Linked DNA regions of Homo sapiens. The protein of the gene in region 1 purifies or fractionates together with the protein of each later gene. This does not show direct contact. Each region holds a gene or a part of one and is shown in the gene's direction. Other genes may lie near its edges.

Region 1 (5,221 bases):
ACAGCAAGGAAAACTTTTCTTATTTGGAATCTCAACCACATGATTCTTGTTTTGTAGAGATGCAGGCTCAAAAAGTAATGCATGTTTCTTCAGCAGAACTGAATTATTCACTGCCATATGACTCTAAACACCAAATACGTAATGCCTCTAATGTAAAGCACCATGACTCTAGTGCTCTTGGTGTATATTCTTACATACCTTTAGTGGAAAATCCTTATTTTTCATCATGGCCTCCAAGTGGTACCAGTTCTAAGATGTCTCTTGATTTACCTGAGAAGCAAGATGGAACTGTTTTTCCTTCTTCTCTGTTGCCAACATCCTCTACATCCCTCTTCTCTTATTACAATTCACATGATTCTTTATCACTGAATTCTCCAACCAATATTTCCTCACTATTGAACCAGGAGTCAGCTGTACTAGGTAAGTTATTTTTTAAAGTTTGCATAGAATTTTAGATTTCATTTTGTTTCTATAGAATAGTTGGTTTCTTCTCCTCTTCCCTCTTCTCCTCTGCTTCTTCTCTTTCTTTCTTTTTTCTCTTTTTTTTCTTTTTTTTTTTTGAGATGGAGTCTCGCTCTGTCACCCAGGCTGGAGTGCAGTGGTGCAATCTTGGCTCAATGCAACTTCCGCCTCCAGAGTTCAAGCAATTCTCCTGCCTCAGCCTCCTGAGTAGCTGGGATTACAGGCGCGCGCCACCACGCCCGGCTAATTTTTGTATTTTTAGCAGAGATGGAGTTTCACCATGTTGGCCAGGATGGTCTTGATCTCTTGACTTCGTGATCTGCCTGCCTCGGCCTCCCAAAGTGCTGAGATTACAGGCATGAGCCACCACGCCTAGCCTGCTTCCTTCTCTTTCTTCTTCCTGCTACTCCTCAAATAAATACATTCCAGGAGTGTTTTAATGCTGTAATAAGTTGAAAATAGCAACATCAAACATAATATTCCATGAAACAGGCAACAATGGAGGCAATCAAGATCTGGTACAGGATCTGTACCAGCAGGAGTGCTTCTAAAGAAGGCACGCCTCATTTCTAGAAATGTATATCAAAGGCTCACAATATACTGTTTTTTAAAAATATTTTTTGAAACAGAATCTCACTATGTTGCCCATGCTGGAGTGCAGTGGTGTGGACATTGCTCATTGCAGCCTTGATGTCCTGGGCTCAACCAATCCTCCCACCTCAGCCTCCCAAGTAGCTGGGACCACAGGGACACGCCACCATGCCTGGCTAATTTTTTTTTTTTTTAGAAATGGGGTCTTGCTATGTTGCCCAGCCTGGTCTTGAAAATCTGGCCTCAAGCAATCCTCCCACCTTGGCCTCCCAAAGTGCTGGGATTACAGGTGCAAGCCACCACACCTAGCTTCAGAATTTACTCTTAACATATAGAAGCAGCTTCCAAAGGAAGAGCAGAAAAAAATTTGATCAATAGCACCCAGATTTTTTGTTGCACAATTATGTGGCTAAAATGAGTTGAACATATTGCTAAAAATTGAATTATCTTCCTGCAGGATTTGGAAGGGGAGAACCTGATTTCTTGCTCTTTTGTAGTAATCTCGTAGATGACAATACATGTTTAGTATTTTGTGTAAAAATTTTATCATATGTATACCTTTACTTTCATGTTTTGTCTCTTTTATAATTCTGTATTTTTGCATATAATGCATATTGTTCTGTTTTACTGATTAGTTTGAAAGTAGAAATGAGCACCCTGTTAGAGATGATGACAATAATTTGATGTGGAAGATGATGAGGGAAAGCAATGAACAAGTTTAACTCCCTTAGGTATATCATCAAATAATTTGTAAAGCACATTCTACATAGATAGGAGGTGGAGAAAACTTTTGCTCTATAACATTATTTATTGTAGAGTTTCTTAATAAATAGTTGTGTAGATCATTTGTAGCTTTGTTGCAAAAATATCTTATCTGGATCTAAGATGTTCCTTCTGTGATTAGATTATTTTATACATTTTTAAACATTTAAATGTATTTTCTTTTCTTATACCTTAAACTTCTCTGAGCATCTGCATCATTAAAAAACAGAGCGAGACTCCGTCTCAAAAAAAAATTAATTAATAAAAACATACCCTTATTTTCAGGGATTGTAACAATATCGTCATGTGCCATCTGGTGGCAGTTTCTTGTAATACCATTTAAAATGTTTAATAAAAACTGAATGTTTGTATAGAAATACAGAAGACTATCCTATACTGTTGTTTTGTAAAATGGAAAAATACCCATATTCTTGAATTTTGTATAGAATGAAGAGATACTGAAATCTTTATGATTTTACCTAATGTATAACTGAACCTTTTACACGTCAAAGCACTTTATAATGTTTTATTATATAGTCTATGTAAAACAAAAGGAGTTATGTAAAAGTTAATTCAAAGCTTCCAAAATTAATATAATATTTTATGTTAACTGATACACCGTGACTCAATCAAAATGTTTTTGAGCTTTTATTTATTTATTATTATTATTATTTTTTGAGACGGAGTGTCCTGCTGCCACCCAGGCTGGAATGCAGTGGTGCAATCTCGGCTCACTGCAAGCTCTGCCTTCCGGGTTCACGCCATTCTCCCACCTCAGCCTCCCGAGTAGCTGGGACTACAGGGGCCCGCCACCACGCCCGGCTAATGTTTTGTGTTTTTAGTAGAGACACGGTTTCACCACGTTAGCCAGGATGGTTTCGATCTCCTGACCTTGTGATCTGCCCGCCTCGGCCTCCGAAAGTGCTGGGATTACAGGCGTGAGCCACCGCGCCCAGCCCTACTTTTGAGCTTTTAAAACAATAAATGTTAAAGAATAAGCAAAAACCTCCTGGGTTTGTACCTTAAGAGAATTTATTTTGCTTTTTCCTTGAATGAACAAGTGTCAACTTTACTGATAATGTTGCTTCAACGGAATTTAAATATAAATTATGGTAAATTTATATTTAATATTAGAATATAAGAATTTCCTTTGGATTGTTCTAATTAACAATTGTTACAATATTTTTGACATTTTGGATAGCAACTGCTCCAAGGATAGATGATGAAATCCCCCCTCCACTTCCTGTATGGACACCTGAATCATTTATTGTGGTTGAGGAAGCTGGTGAGTACAGTTCAGTAAGTATAAAATAAAGTGTGGGATGGGCATGGTGGCTCATGCCTTTAATTCCAGCACTTTGGGAAGCTGATGTGTGAGCCTTGAGTTTGAGGAGTTCATTGAGGCCAGGAGTTCAAGACTAGCCTGCGCAACATAGTGAGACCTCATCTCTAATTTTTTTTTTTTAATTTAGCAGAGCAATAGCAGCATGCATGTGTAGTCCCAACTATTTGGATGGTGGAGGTGAGAGGATCACTTGAGCCCAGGAGTTGGGGGCTGCAGTAAGCCATGATTGTGCCACTGCACTCCAGTCTGGGTGACAGAGCAAGACCCTGTCTCAAAAAATAAAATGAAGTGTGAATTAACTAGATTACTTCTCAGGTCCTTTCAATGTTTTATGTATTATTTGCTGAGCAACATTTGATGTCTAAAAGAATACTATTCTTAAGAACCGAACTATATTCACTTTCTTCCAGGAGAATTCTCACCAAATGTTCCCAAATCCTTATCCTCAGCTGTGAAGGTAAAAATTGGAACATCACTGGAATGGGGTGGAACATCTGAACCAAAGAAATTTGATGACTCTGTGATACTTAGACCAAGCAAGGTCAATAATTTTTTAATGACTCTACTCATTTAGATTCAATAGACTACAGTTCTACTCCTTGTATTTTTAACACCCATCATTCAATAAATCCTAAGCACATACTAAATATAGAACAATGTGCTAGAGGATGTTGGGATAAAAAGGATGTATAAGACACAATTCTTGCCTGTAAGAAGCTTCTTGTCTAGTAGTAGAGATATAGGATGTGTACAAATCTTTATTTTTGCCTATATTTATTATAACAAAGCAAATGTGATCAATGTCATATGAAAGATAAAGAATTTCAAGTGTAGGAGATGCCTCCAGGTTGGAAGTGATCAAGGAAGATTTAGTGAAAGAGGAAACATTTGAGCTGATTCTTGAAGGATAGTTAAGGCAAAAATAAATGTTTCATACTTAAGTAGGAAGCTTGTTCACTGTAGTCATTTGGTAGGCTATATCATGTTTGCTGTGATAATATGTTATAGAGAATGACAGGTGTGCATATTACTTAAGATAAACCTTTTGGAATAGTGTGGTTGATGGTAAAGTCAGAGATGGGGGTGGGAGGGGTTTGTGGATTAAATAGAAAATAATTATTGAAAGTAGGTGTGTCCTGCTTCTGGAGGAAAAATAGAAGTGTATCTAAAAATGTTATGCATTTCTGTATAGTCTGTGAACCAATTCTCTTAAAATTTGAGAGATCAGAAAAATAATTAAACATTTTAAAGTACCTACAATTGCAATGCTGATAGGCAAATATTCTCTGCCTTTTAAATTATAATTCTAATGTACTAGTAATTATTATTGTCATTAATAATAGGCACATATATTTACTTTAACAACTCCCAGAGGAAAGAACAGTCACTCTTCCAATGTTATGAAGTAACTTCAATTTCCGCAACTTACCTCTAATTAAATTTTCAGGGAAATGTTTCAGGTGGGACAGAAATAAGTCAGAAGGGGATCAATTTAGGACTAATTGCCATGGGATATAAAAATCAGTGTAAGAGTGAAAGATGCCATTTCATAATTCAGCACACTTACAAATTAGGAAAAATAGGGTCTACATTTCATAATTATCTCTACAGCTATATTACATATAAGTTCAAAAATGCCATTTTTTGCTTTGAGTTTGTATAATTTGTATACATATTCTTCTTTCACTTTTCCTTTCTTTTTTTCTTTTAGAGTGTAAAACTCCGAAGTCCTAAATCAGGTAAAAATTTCTCTTGGCTTTAGATGACATTTAGCCCTAAGATTGGAAGAATGGTTCGTTAAGTTTAGAGTAATTCACTTCAGGAAGTTACTTGGTTCCCATAATAGCTTCCAGTATTCATTGATTTATTTCTGGCTTTCCCAGACTAGAAATTTTGTAAAGAGCAAGGTGAAGACAGGATTTTAGAATTCTGCTCCTTAATATATAACCTCTCTGAAATAATATATAAAAACTATTTCAGAGAGAATCTTTTAAAACTTTGCAGCTTTTCCACTATAGAGATTTTCCCACTGTTAACAGTGTGATTCAAAAAATTATTTCT
Region 2 (4,360 bases), about 110 Mb from region 1:
GCCATGTTTCCTCCTGACCGTACAGGGTTGAGGGTTTCTGGAAAGAGCATCCAGAGGGGAGGTGCCCTGTCCTAGGGGCTTTTGAGCTTCACTTCCTTCCCGCTTCCCTGCACCACGAGATGCTCCAGGCTTTCCTTCCCGCTTCCTGGCACGGTGAGATGCTCTGGGCTCGCCTCCGTGCCACCTGCCCCAGTGCAATAGCTGCCGCCTTTCCAGGAAGCCCTGTCTCCCGTGGCTGGAGCTGGAAGCCAGGGTCTGGGCACTGGGCGTCTTGCCCTTGTTCTCTCAGGAGCCAGAACTTGATAACATGCGTGTGTGCACCAGCCCAGTCACATCTGTGTTCTGCCAGCCCTGTTCACGTGTGTGTGCTGTGTACACGTGGGTACCGGCCTGTGCACTTGCGTGTGTGCGTGCCAGCTCCATGTACGTGCACCGCCCTGCAGCCGTGTCTTCAGGCACCTGAGTTTGGATGAGTGACTCCTTGCCGACATCTTGACTGGAATCCTGCGCCATGTGGTTTCTTTCCACCTTTTTGCTTTTTGCTCTGCCTCGTGTGTGTCTGTGTCTGTGGAGTGTGTAGAGCGTGTGGAGTGTGTGGCCCGTGTCTGTGGCATGTGGAGTGTGTGGCCCGTGTCTGTGGCGTGTGGAGCGTGTGGCCTGTGTCTGTGGCGCGTGTGGAGCGTGACCGGAGCATTCGAGGATGCACGTGTCCACGTGAGACCCACCAGGTGCCCCACCTGCCACATGGCCACCCGGGTGGCCCCGTCCCCAGCCGGTGTGTTTTGGGGACTGTGGAGCTGAGGGTGCCTCCCAGGCCCGTCCACCTCTGGGCTGCTGCGGCTGCTGAGGGAGGGGCGCGTGTGAGCGGCAGCCTGGCCTTCTTCCATGAGGATCTCTGCCCAGTGCTTCTGAGCCGTGCCTGCGGTGTGTGCACCCTCGAAGCTTGCCTGGCCCAGGTCCCAGAGGCCACACCTGCCTGACGAGGGCCTGCTTGCCACCTCATAACGTGGCCGCGGCTGCCCCTGAGCGGAGCATAGAGGCAAGGGGCCAGGGCACCCTACTCTCGGGGATGCCTCCGGCAAACGCACCAGCCGGGGTCTCAAGACCTCGCACCTCTGGAAGCCCTGCCTCCCAGTGCTGTTGCCCTGGGGGTTAAGTTTCCAACAGGTGAGCTCAGGACACGGGCGGCTGCAGCAGGGGTAGGAGCCTGTGGCTTCCACAAAGACATAATGGTGAAGCCGAGCTCTGAAGCTGGGACGGGAGTGACCTGTCCTGGGGCCTGTGGCCTCCTGACCTGGCCTGCGCTGGCCCCGTGTCCCCAGTCTGTGTCCCTATCCCCCAAGTCTGTGGTCTCTTCCATCCTTGCACACAATGTTAAGTCCCCACACGGTCTTCTTCCTAAATCTCACAACTTAAATTTATATGAAGGATTTTGTTTTGTCTTGTTTTGAGTCAGGGTCTCGGTATGCCGCCCAGGCTGGAGTGCAGTGGTGTGATCACAGTTCACTGCAACCTTCGCATTCCAGGTTCGGGAGGCCTCCCACCTCAGCCTCTTGAGTAGCTGAAACCACAGGTGCACGCCACCGCGCCTGGCGAATTTTCGTAATTGTTTTTGTAGAGGTGGGGTCTCCCTATGTTGCCCAAGCTGGTCTTGAACTTCTGGGCTTAAGTGATCCACCTGTCTTAGCCTCCCAAAGGGCTGGGATTATAGGTGTGGCCACTGCGTCCTGCCTATATGAAGGTTTTTGTGTAGCCATACCTGAAGCATCGAAAATAAAACATGGGCCGGGCCCAGTGGCCACACCTGTAATCCTAGCACGTTGGGAGGCTGAGGTGGGTGGATCATTTGAGGTCAGGAGTTTGAGACTAGCCTGCCCAACATGGTGAAACCGTATTTCTGTTAAAAATACAAAAATTAGCCAGGCGTGGTGGTGCACCCCTGTAATCCCAGCTACTCGGGAGGCTGAGGCAGTAGAATCGCTTGAACCCGGGAGGCGGAGGTTGCAGTGAGCAAAGATTGCGCCACCACACTCCAGCCTGGGTGACAGAGTGAGACTCCATCTCAAAAAATAAAATAAAACGTGAAGAGTGTGACTTTTGGAAGCTGTGGTTGGAGAGTGGGGTCTGGTGGTGATTCTGTGTGACAGAGGGGGAGGGTCCATGTGTTTCCCCGGGGAGGGGACCGTGGCATCCACCTTCCCCAGTGTCTCTGGCGTGGCCCGGCACCCCACAAGCCCCACGTCCCGGACGCTTTTCGCGTTGCCTGGTGGAGCCTGTCGCTGTTGGTGGCAGGTTCACGCAGCCATGGAGTCCTGGGCCGGCGGCATCCGTCTGGCTGTTCGGGGTCCTGGGGGCCCAGTCTGACGGCCACCTGCCCATTTGCTGTCTTGCAGGGTGGATGTGAACACTGACCGGAAGATCAGTGCCAAGGAGATGCAGCGCTGGATCATGGAGAAGACGGCCGAGCACTTCCAGGAGGCCATGGAGGAGAGCAAGACACACTTCCGCGCCGTGGACCCTGACGGGGACGGTACTGTGGCTGGGCCGGGGTGGGTGGGGCGGTGGGCGGGGCGGGCAGGGCCATGGGCCTTGCCTGGTGCCTGGAGGGCAGACAGGCCCTGTCTGAGGGACGGGCGGTGGGGAAGTGTCAGCCGGAGACCCCGAGGTGTGGTGGGGTGCACGGAAGCTGGGTTCATGATGCCAGAATCCTGGTGACAGAGGTGTGTGTGCCAAGCACTGGGCGTGGCCCATGGAGGGCGCCTCTTATGTCTTCGGGGCCTTCATCTGGTGGTGTCTATGCCTCTTGGTGGCCCCGAGGCACAGACGTTGCCGGCTGGCCTCACAGGTGAGGAAACGGGTGTGGGGTGCTGGCCGGGGCCCTGGGGCTCCAGACGCTGGCATCCTGCCGCTTCCAGCCTGGGCAGCAGAGCAAGACCCCATCTCAGTTGAGAAGGAAGTTCAGCTCAGTATCAGAGGCCCTGACAGGTGTGATCTGCTCTTCCAGGTCACGTGTCTTGGGACGAGTATAAGGTGAAGTTTTTGGCGAGTAAAGGCCATAGCGAGAAGGAGGTTGCCGACGCCATCAGGCTCAACGAGGAACTCAAAGTGGATGAGGAAAGTGAGTGCTCAGCCAGGCTCCCGCCACCGGTCTCAGGCATCCTGTGTGTGCGCGCGTGTGTTGTGTGTACATGAGTGTGCCGTGTGTGTCGTGTATGAGTGTGCCGTGCGTGTGCTCGTGAGTACGTGTGTGCGTGCCGTGTGTACGAGTGTGCTGTGCGCGTGCTCGTGAGTACGTGTGTGCATGTTGTGTGTACGTGTGCTGTGTGTGTGCTCGTGAGTACATGTGTATGCGTGTCGTGTGTACGAGTGCACTGTGCATGTGCTTGTACGTGTGTGCGTGTCGTGTGTACGAGTGCGCTGTGCGTGTGCTTGTGAGTACATCCAGGTAGCTGTTCATGTAGGCTCGTGAGTACATGCAGGTGAGTGCGCCCTCACACCCGCTGTGTGCACACGTGTTCGTCTTAACAGCATGGCCCAACCTGGTTGGTGGTGGCTGTCAGGAGGGAAGTGGGTGAAGCCGTTGCTGACCTAGGCGCCGCCCAGGAGTCCGGTGGGGAGCGTGTGAGCTGTGCCTGGGCAGCTTTCAGCTCTGCTGGTCACGGCACCTTCACGGCCGTTACTCAGTTAGGTCCTGCAGAGAATCTGAGGCTGTGAGTCTGGGTTGGGGCCTGCCCCGTACTCTGAAGGCCACGTGAGGCAGAGTTTCCTGGGGAGAGGGCACAGCCTGTGCCTGAGGGCCTGGCCCTGAGGCCTGGGTCTGCTGGAGACATCTGTGTGGCCGTCAGGTGGTCACCAGAGAGCGGTCAGGTCCCAGGGAGAGGCTCTTCCTTGGGTCTGGGGTGTGGCCGTTGGCCAGCAGGGCAGCCTCAGCCCTGGGCGGGTCCAAGCTGGTGCCTCTGCGTGAAGAGGGTGGGGCCGGGTGGGGCCCGGCACCCGGGCTAAGGCCAGGTGAGGGGAGAGCCGGGCCACCCTGCACGGGGCCAGGTCTGGGAGAGCCGTCCAGGCAGAAGCCCCTGCTGGCCCAGTTGTGAGGCACAGCTGAGCGGGTACCGTGGCGTTGCTGCCACCCTGGGGCTCCGTGTGCCCTTCCCGGTCATGCCCGTGGTCTGGTTTGGGGCTTTGAGGAGAACGTGCAGAGTCGCCTGCTCCGTCGCTGCCCGGCATCCTGGGGTGGGTTCTCTGCTGCCCTGCAGGGCGCCCGTGTCGCCCACGGGACTGGTCACGTGATACGGGGCTGCTCCTGGCAGGCTGGGTGTATCTTACACCTTTATTTTTTGTGCCTGCTTAACTTATCAGTAAC
Region 3 (4,843 bases), on another chromosome or scaffold:
CTATACATATTAGTCTGCAACTTGCTTTTAAAATGTATTATAATATGGACATATATCTAGGTCAGTATCTTATTCTGTTTGATGGTTGAATTGCATCCCATTGTTTGGAGGTCCCTTAGACCATTTCACCATTTGTCCACTTAAGTGACTGGGCTTTTCCAATGTTGCTTTTACCAACAATGCTGCAAAGAATAACATTGTACATATACGCTAATCCTGACATGCCATAATTTTAAAAAGATAGCGACCTAGAAGTGAGACTACCGGCTCATAGTGCAAGTTTATTTTATTTTATTTATTTATTTTTTGAGACATGGTCACACTCTGTTGTCCAGGATGGAGTGCAGTGGCACAAACCCAGCTCACTGCAGCCTCGACCTCACAGGCTCAAGCGATCCTCCCATCTCAGCCTCCTAAGTAGCTGGGGCTACAGGCGCGCACCACCATGCCTGACTAATTTTTTCACTTTTTTGTAGAGAAGGGGTCTCACTATGTTGCCAGGGCTGGTCTCGAACTCCTGGGCTCAAGTGACCCTCCCACCTTGGCCTCCGAAAGTGCTGGGATTACAGGTGTGAGCCACCACACCCAGCCACAAGTTTATTTTCCATTTCAATAGCCTCCAATTATTAGCCACTAGAGACTCTTAACTTCCTTGAGTTAGGATCCTTACCAATTTTTGAGCACCTACCATACGCCTGCTATATGTAGCAATGGGGATGAAGAAAACAATCAAAACAAAACAAAAGAAAAAGGTATTTCCCTACCACCGTAGAGCTCTATATAGAAAGAATACAAAAAAAAAAAAGCAGCCAGAAAATAAGAATTAAAATAATTTGTATTGCACATAGTTGGTGTTTAATTCATAAATACCACTTACAAAGATTTATGACTCAAAGACAAGACAAAGTACTTCCATGGGTTGACACAGGGCTGTAAGCAATTCTTTGAACATGAAAGAAGCTGGACACATAGGTCATATTCCACTCCAGTACTCTTCCCAGTCCATCAAACTGCTCTCTTCCAGGCCAATAAGTACTTTCTGAAGTCTTCCTCGAGTCCAACTTCTAGATTTTTATTCCTTCCTCTCCCTGCATCATTCCAGCCATAGCTCCCCTTTGTGTTCATGCAATTAATTTCGTCTGAGTCAAAGGCCTTGTGTACTCTCGCTCGTTCAGAGGGCAAAGGTGTATTCTAGATCCTACCAGAAATAAGTTTCTTAGGAATTTGGTTTTATTTTATAACAAGCTAAGAGATCATGTTTTTGTGTTTCAAACATATTACTTTTTCTAATTTCCTCAAACTTAGATATTTCCCTTTTTAGTTCTTTCTGAGATTAAGCATCTTAGAACTATTCTCTCTTTTGAATCACGGCACCACCTTTAGCTAAGAGAAAAACATCTAATTCTCAGCTACTTCCAGGCATAATTGCAACAAAATCAGACCCAATATTGAAGATTCACGTTTGCTGTGTGTTTTACCATAATAAAAGTTCGAAATTCTGTGAACTCTCTTAATAAAATGTTCCAATTTCTTACACCCTTTCATGATGACGTTCTCTTAAAGGACTAACTTGAAATTTTCAACATTCAGTTAAGCCCATTTCCTTCCTATTAACAATCAGTATTCAATATTGTGGCACGTAAGTAATACTGTAGTTCTGACAGATTAATTTATATTTGCCTTATTAAGAGTCGTTGCTTTTTTTGCTCCCCGACTTAAATTTTTTTTGTTTTTCCCCAATCTATACGAATAAAAGCGTGAACTATATGTGAAATAGCTGAAGCTCCACTTCCATTATAAATAGACAATGTCCCAAATTGCCGTTTTACAAACATTCTCAATAGCATCAGCCAGTGATAGCAATCCGAATACTCCAGAGAGAATGCGACCAAAACCCACAACAAGCCCCGTGGTCTAGCACAGCAAAGAGAAAAAAAGAGAACACGAAAATGCCCTTGCTCCCCTCCGGGGGCCCCTTTTGTGCGGTTCTTGCCAACGCAGCAGCCCTCCTGCTATATAGCCCGCCGCGCCGCAGCCCCACCCGCTCAGCGCCGCCGCCCCACCAGCTCAGCACCGCCGTGCGCCCAGCCAGCCATGGGGAAGGTGAGCCCAGCCTGCGCCCCGGGACCCCGGAGCTTCCTCCATCGCGGGGGCCAGAGACTGGGGCAGGAGCAGGCCTGTGAGACCTCGCCTTGTCCCGCCTTGCCTTGCAGATCACCCTCTACGAGGACCGGGGCTTCCAGGGCCGCCACTATGAATGCAGCAGCGACCACCCCAACCTGCAGCCCTACTTGAGCCGCTGCAACTCGGCGCGCGTGGACAGCGGCTGCTGGATGCTCTATGAGCAGCCCAACTACTCGGGCCTCCAGTACTTCCTGCGCCGCGGCGACTATGCCGACCACCAGCAGTGGATGGGCCTCAGCGACTCGGTCCGCTCCTGCCGCCTCATCCCCCACGTGAGTACATCCTCAAGTCAGGACCCAGGCCCTCAGGACACTCACTGGATGGTTTCAAGCAAAAGTTAAACATTAGAAGTAGTGATCAGTCACAATAACTGAGAGTGGACAAAAGATGAACTATAGTGGATTAAGTCAATAGAGTTTGCTCCCCACATAAGCAAAGTATTACCCAGACACCAGTTAATCACAATTAATCCACAAATATGTATTGAGTAGGAATGTGTCTCCTGCCCTAGGGGTTGTATAAGACTTAAGTCCTATTCTGGAATCATTTAGAATGGAGTTGTAGAAAAACCACTAATACCCAATAGAAGAATAAATGCTAGAGCGTACAGCAGTTACTGAGCAAACAGGGTAATTTCTTTTGAGACTTTTTCCCGTTTTTGCTCCTCTCTTGCATATTTTGGGTTTTCCCAACCTATATAAGTAAGACTTTCCTTCAAAGGAGAGCAACACACATATTTTACACATGTGTCCCTTTTATCCCATATGTGTGTTAGAACACTAAAGTTTATGCAAAATTCGTCCTTGGACTTACTGATGTTTCTTCCTCCATTTTTCTTCATTGCATTCACAAGTTATTGACTTAGAATTAATTGTTCTTTAATATATGAAGATATTTAACATTTTATATTTTAATATATTTTAAATATTTATATTTTAATATATTTAAAACACTTATATTTTGAATAGAAGGCTTATATATTTAACATATTTTATTTATGTCATTGATTTAAATGATGCATTATCATTTAATTCAATATATTAAATGATATATTTAATATATTTTAAATACTTATATTTAAAATACATATTTTTATATTTTAAATATATTTACATTAAATATATTTAATGAATATAATGTATTTAATAATATATTTATTTAATAAATATGTATTTAATATATTTATATAACTACATAAATTATATTATATTTTAAATATATTTAACATATTTTAAATATATTTTAATATATTTTTAATATATTTCATTTACATTATATGTGTGTATATATATATTTTTGTTGTTGTTGTTTTGTTTTTGTTTTTTGAAACAGAGTCTCACTCTGACGCCCAGGCTGGAGTGCAGTGGTGCAATCTCGGCTCACTGCAACCTCCGCCTCCTGGATTCAAATGATTCTCGTCTCTCAGTCTCCTGAGTAGCTGGAGTTACAGGAGCACGCCACCACACCCAGCTAATTTTTGTATTTTTATTTTTATTTTATTTTATTTTATTATTTATTATTATTATTTTTTTTGACGAAGTCTTGCTCTGTTCCCCACGCTGGAGTGCAGTGGCATGATCTCGGCACACTGCAACCTCTGCTTCCTGGGCCCTAGCAATTTTCTTCCCAAGTAGCTGGGATTACAGGCACCCGCCACCACACCTGGCTAATTTTTGTATTTTTAGTATAGACAAGGTTTCGCCATATTCGTCAGGCTGGTCTTGAACTCCTGACCTCAAGTGATCCACCTGCCTCGGCTTCCCAGGGTGCTGGGACTACAGGCATGAGCCACTGCCCCACCCCTTATATTTCTGTATTTTAAATATATTTTATTTATATTTTAGTAAAGTTATTTTAAAATAAAATATAATTTGTAAAATAAATATAATTTTAATTTATACTTATAAAATATAATTTGAATATAATTATTAAAATAAAATATGATTAACTTTAAATAAAATATAATTTTATACATTTTATAATATATTTTAAATATAGTATATAATTAAATATGTATTAGATATCATATGTATATTAAAATTATACATTATTTAAATATATTTCTTTATAATTTAATGTTTATTTTAATATTAAAACATTTCTTCAAAATGGTATAAAATAGTAATAAGCTGTTACAGGTTTGGATTTGCATGTGGTACAGGATACTGAGCCTAGGAGGCAGCTCATCCTAAGAAATAGCTGAATATATTAAAGAGTGAGATTTCCTTCTCAATTTCTTCACCACACTTCATAATCTTGAAAAGGTACTGAATCTCTGTGCTCGGTAATGAGGAGTTTATAAATATTCAGAATTAATTAAATTTTACCATGTATTTCAAAATGGCTTGAGCGGGTCCTCACCAAGCTGGACTGCCTAACAATGCATTGGAATCATTTCACACTTGCTTTTCTTCTCTTTTTATTTCTGGGTCCGCCAGTCTGGCTCTCACAGGATCAGACTCTATGAGAGAGAGGACTACAGAGGCCAGATGATAGAGTTCACTGAGGACTGCTCCTGTCTTCAGGACCGCTTCCGCTTCAATGAAATCCACTCCCTCAACGTGCTGGAGGGCTCCTGGGTCCTCTACGAGCTGTCCAACTACCGAGGACGGCAGTACCTGCTGATGCCAGGGGACTATAGGCGCTACCAGGACTGGGG
Region 4 (4,360 bases), on another chromosome or scaffold:
CCCTCTGTGTATTTTTTAATATTTATTTATTTATTTATTTTGAGACGGAGTCTCTGTTGCCCAGGCTGGAGTATAGTGGTGTGATCTCGGCTCACTGCATCCTCTGCCTCCAGGGTTCAAGTAATTCTCATGCCTCAGCCTCCCAAGTAGCTGGGACTATAGGTGTACACCACCATGCCCAGCTAATTTTTGTATTTGTAGTAGACACGAGATTTCACCATGTTGGCCAGGCTGGTCTCGAACTCCTGACCTCAAGTGATCCACCCACTTTGGCCTCCCAAAATGCTGGGATTATAGGTGTGAGCCACTGTGCCAGGCCTTTTATTTTATCTATCTATGTATCTATGTATGTGTGTGTGTGTGTCTGTCTGTCTGTCTCTCTGTCTGTCTATATCTATCTATCTATCTATCTATCTATCTATCTATCTATCTATCTATCTTTTGAGACGGTCTCACTCTGTTGGCCAGGCTGGAGTGCAGTGGTGCTCTCACACCTCACTGCAACTTCGCCTCCCAGGGCTCAAGCAATCCTCCCACCTCTGCCTCCCCAGTAACTGGGACCACAAGTGCACGCCACCACGCCTGGCTAATTTTTGTATTTTTTGTACAGATGGGTTTCGCCATGTTGCCCAGGCTGTTCTCAAACTTCTGGGCTCAAACAATCCACCCACCTCCCCACCTCAGCCTCCCAAAGTGCTGGGAATACAGTCGTGAGCCACTGTTCCCAGCCTGTATGGGTTTTTTTTAAATAAATAAATAAAATATTGGGGTTTTCTGTTTTTGTGGGGTTTTTTTGTTTGTTTTTTTTTTTGAGATGGAGTCTCGCTCTGTCTCCCAGGCTAGAGTGCAGTGGTGTGATCTTGGCTCACTGCAACCTCCACCTCCCAGGTTCAAGCGATTCTCCTGTCTCAGCCTCCCTAGTAGCTGGGACTGCAGGCGCGTGCCGCCATGCCCAGCTAATTTTTTGTATTTTTAGTAGAGACGGGGTTTCATTGTGTTAGCCAGGATGGTCTCGATCTCCTGACCTTGTGATCCACCCGCCTCAGCCTCCCAAAGTGCTGGGATTATAGGTGTGAGCCACTGCGTCCAGCCTGTTTTTGTGTTTTAAATAGAGTTGAGGTCTCATTGTGTTGCCCAGGCTGGTCTTGAATTCCTAGCCTCAAGCGATCCTCCTGCCTTGGCCTCCCAAAGTGCAGGGATTACAGGCATGAACCACCACACACAGCCTAAAATATTGTTTTGTTTTTGTTTTTTTCGAGGCAGGGTCTCGCTCTGTTACCCAGGCTGGAGTGCAGTGGCATGATCTCGGCTCACTGCAACCTCTGCCTCCCAGGTTCAAGTGATTCTCCTGTCTCAGCGTCCCAAGAAGCTGGGATTACAGGCGCCCACCACCATGCCTGGCTAATTTTTGTATTTTTAGTAGAGATGTGGTTTCACCATATTGGCCAGGCTGGTCTTGAACTCCTGACCTCAAGCGATCCGTCTGCCTCGGCCTCCCAAAGTTCTGGGATTACAGGCGTGAGCCACTGCGCCCAGCCCATTATTATACTTTCTGACAAAATGTATATATGTATAGTCCTGACAGCCTGAGGTGGAAGAAAGGTAGTTAACTTAGATACAAATAACTGCTTGCCCATTTAGGAATCTAAGACTAAGCAATTAACATTCTCACATGTATCTCCCTGCACATGTGTACACATATCTGAGAAGTGCCTGGTTTGGTTAACTGTCTTCTGATCAGAATCCATTACTTACTAAGCCAGGCACAGTGTTGTGTACCTGTAGTCCCAGCTACTTGGGAGGCTGAGGTGGGGAGATCACTTGACCCCAGGAGTTCAAAGCCAGCCTGGACAACATTGGGGGACCCTATCTCAAAATAAAACAGAAGGAATCCATGACTTGCTAGAGTCAAGGTATCTTTCATATGCCTGCCTTCCATCTTGCGTATTCCTCCCGTGTCTCTCCATTAACTTAAATCCTACCTCTCTTTCAGGTCCTAGACATTTTTGCTGCAAAATAATCTTTGATCACTCCTGCCTACTGTGATCTCCCCTTCTTACCTTGAAATTTATGTGGCACTTGTCTTCTGTAGTTTCATCAAGCACATTTCATATGCTCATATGCTGTCTTGAACTGTAGACTTTTTATTTTTATTTTATTTTTTTTTGAGACACAGTTTCAACTTATGTCACCCAGGCTGGAGTGCAGTGGCGCAATCTCAGCTCACTGCAACCTTAGCCTCCTGAGCTCAAGTGATTCTCCAGCCTCAGCCTCCCAACTAGCTGGGACTAGACAAACGCCACCATGCCCAGCTAATTTTTGTATTTTCTGTAGAGATGGGGTTTCACCATGTTGCACAGCCTGGTCTTGAACTCCTGAGCTCAAGTGATCTGTCTGACTCAGCCTCCCAGAATGCTGGGATTACAGGTGTGAGCCACTGCACCTGTCCTTGAAATGTAGACTTTTTATTCCTATGTATTTTGTTGTTGTTGTTGTTGTTGTTGATATTGTTGTTTTTGGGACATAGTGTCACTCTGCTGCCCAGGCTGGAATGCAGTGGTACAATCACAACTCACTGCAGCTTTGACCTCTCAGGCTCTGGTGAGCCTTTCACCTCAGCCACCCAAGTACAGACAAGTGCCACCATGCCCAGCTAACTTTTTTTGTGTATTTTTTCGTAGAGAGCGTGTTTCACCATGTTGCCTAGGCTGGTCTCATACTCCTGGGCTCAAGCAATTTGCCCACCTTAGCCTCCCAAAATGCTAGGAGTACAGGCAGTGAGCCACTGCATTCAGCCAACCTTCATATTTTGATATTTTATATTATCTCCCCATTAAGATTGTAAACTTTTTTAGGGTAAGAACAATCTAATTGTTCTTTTTTTAGGCAAGAACAATCTAATTGTTTTGGATTTTTTAAGTTTTTTTAAATCCTGGATTCTAAGGATTAAATGATTGTTTTATTCTCTCTTTTGGTGAGGTGTCTCTTTTTTTTTTTTTTTTTTTTTTTTGAAATGAGGGTCTCACTCTGTCACCCAGGCTGGAGTGCAGTGACATGATCTCGGCTCACTAGAGGTGTCTTTTTTGATATTGAACAGTGACAGTGAGCTCATAAATGTTTAGGTGTTTTCTGTTTTGGGTTCTATTTATGACCCATAGGTGGCACCTATTGAGTGCTAGATAGCAAGCAACAGCATGTGGGCATCTGGCTGGCTCAGGCTATAGGTCCTTTACTTCCAGTGATGACTCAAGATTGAAGTATCATTAAACACTTAATTAACACAGTAACTTACATATTCCTCTAATATTTGCTTTGGCCAGTTAATTAAACCATAGATGTTCCTGTATATAGGCATTTACTAGAATTTTCATATTCTTTCTTGTAGGACCGGGTGACTTTTAGAAGAATCATAGTGAAAAATAATGCAAAGAAGAGGAAGATGTTTGAATCATTTATTGAGTCTGTGCCCCTCCTTAAATCACTAGAGGTAAAGTGGCTTGAATAAGAATCTGTTCATGGGGATCAGGAAAAGCTTTTAAAACTATTCTGTTGTTAGGTTTTCAAATCATACTATTCTAATCCTATTTCTGTGCTGCATAGCTATTGTGACTTTCAATTAAGGTCTTTTCCTTTTATTTGTGAATTTGTTGTTTCAGGTGTCAGAACGAATGAAGATTGTGGATGTAATAGGAGAGAAGATCTATAAGGATGGAGAACGCATAATCACTCAGGTGAGTGAGGGCTTTACGCAGCTCCTTTCCTGGAAGTCACCCCTGAAGAACTAGTACATCATTTATCTCAAAAACTTCTTGCCGGACGCAGTGGCTCACGCCTGTAATCCCAACACTTCGGGAGGCTGAGGCAGGTGGATCACTTGAGGCCAGGAGTTCAAGACCAGCCTGGCCAACATGGTAAAACTCCATCTCTACTAAAAATACAAAAATTAGCTGGGTGTGGTGGCCCATGCCTGTAATCCCAGCTACTTGGGAGGCTGAGGCGGGAGAATTGCTGGAACCCAGGAGGCAAAGGTTTCAGTGAGTCGAGATTGCGCCACTGCCTCCAGCCTGGGCAACAGAGCAAGACTCCATTTCAAAAAAAAACCAAAAAACCTTCTATGTTCTCCCACTGTTGGGAGCTCTTATTACCAGGTAATAGATCATACTTCAGAGGACTATTATGTAGTCCTCTGAAGCTTATTGACGTCCGTCTTACTGACACGTGCAGATCTCTTGCTTCCTCTCACCTTTCCTTGGCTTCTAGTGTTTGTTCTTTTGATGTCATTTTCTTTTGACCTTAAGTAAGTTTCATCCATTGCTATTAGAACCTGGGGAAGGTTAAAGAGTTCTGTCCTCTAACTTTC

The links. Proteins that work in one complex are often made in the same cells at the same time.
Region 2: the proteins of PTPN22 (region 1) and SDF4 purify together in Homo sapiens (affinity purification with mass spectrometry, with the first as the bait; one large-scale study listed by BioGRID). This does not show direct contact.
Region 3: the proteins of PTPN22 (region 1) and CRYGD purify together in Homo sapiens (affinity purification with mass spectrometry; one large-scale study listed by BioGRID and IntAct). This does not show direct contact.
Region 4: the proteins of PTPN22 (region 1) and PRKAR2A purify together in Homo sapiens (affinity purification with mass spectrometry, with the first as the bait; one large-scale study listed by BioGRID). This does not show direct contact.

The regions. Positions count from the first base shown.
Region 1 is NC_000001.11:113,832,789-113,838,009, reverse strand, and holds part of PTPN22 (tyrosine-protein phosphatase non-receptor type 22), read left to right. Parts: coding exon 1-420; intron 421-3,016; coding exon 3,017-3,100; intron 3,101-3,570; coding exon 3,571-3,701; intron 3,702-4,871; coding exon 4,872-4,899; intron 4,900-5,221. UniProt on the Homo sapiens protein: Acts as a negative regulator of T-cell receptor (TCR) signaling by direct dephosphorylation of the Src family kinases LCK and FYN, ITAMs of the TCRz/CD3 complex, as well as ZAP70, VAV, VCP and other key signaling molecules.
Region 2 is NC_000001.11:1,222,002-1,226,361, reverse strand, and holds part of SDF4 (45 kDa calcium-binding protein isoform 2 precursor), read left to right. Parts: intron 1-2,393; coding exon 2,394-2,530; intron 2,531-3,004; coding exon 3,005-3,118; intron 3,119-4,360. UniProt on the Homo sapiens protein: May regulate calcium-dependent activities in the endoplasmic reticulum lumen or post-ER compartment. Isoform 5 may be involved in the exocytosis of zymogens by pancreatic acini.
Region 3 is NC_000002.12:208,121,725-208,126,567, reverse strand, and holds the start of CRYGD (gamma-crystallin D), read left to right. Parts: upstream 1-2,043; 5' UTR 2,044-2,094; coding exon 2,095-2,103; intron 2,104-2,213; coding exon 2,214-2,456; intron 2,457-4,622; coding exon 4,623-4,843. UniProt on the Homo sapiens protein: Crystallins are the dominant structural components of the vertebrate eye lens.
Region 4 is NC_000003.12:48,764,375-48,768,734, reverse strand, and holds part of PRKAR2A (cAMP-dependent protein kinase type II-alpha regulatory subunit), read left to right. Parts: intron 1-3,385; coding exon 3,386-3,487; intron 3,488-3,656; coding exon 3,657-3,731; intron 3,732-4,360. UniProt on the Homo sapiens protein: Regulatory subunit of the cAMP-dependent protein kinases involved in cAMP signaling in cells. Type II regulatory chains mediate membrane association by binding to anchoring proteins, including the MAP2 kinase.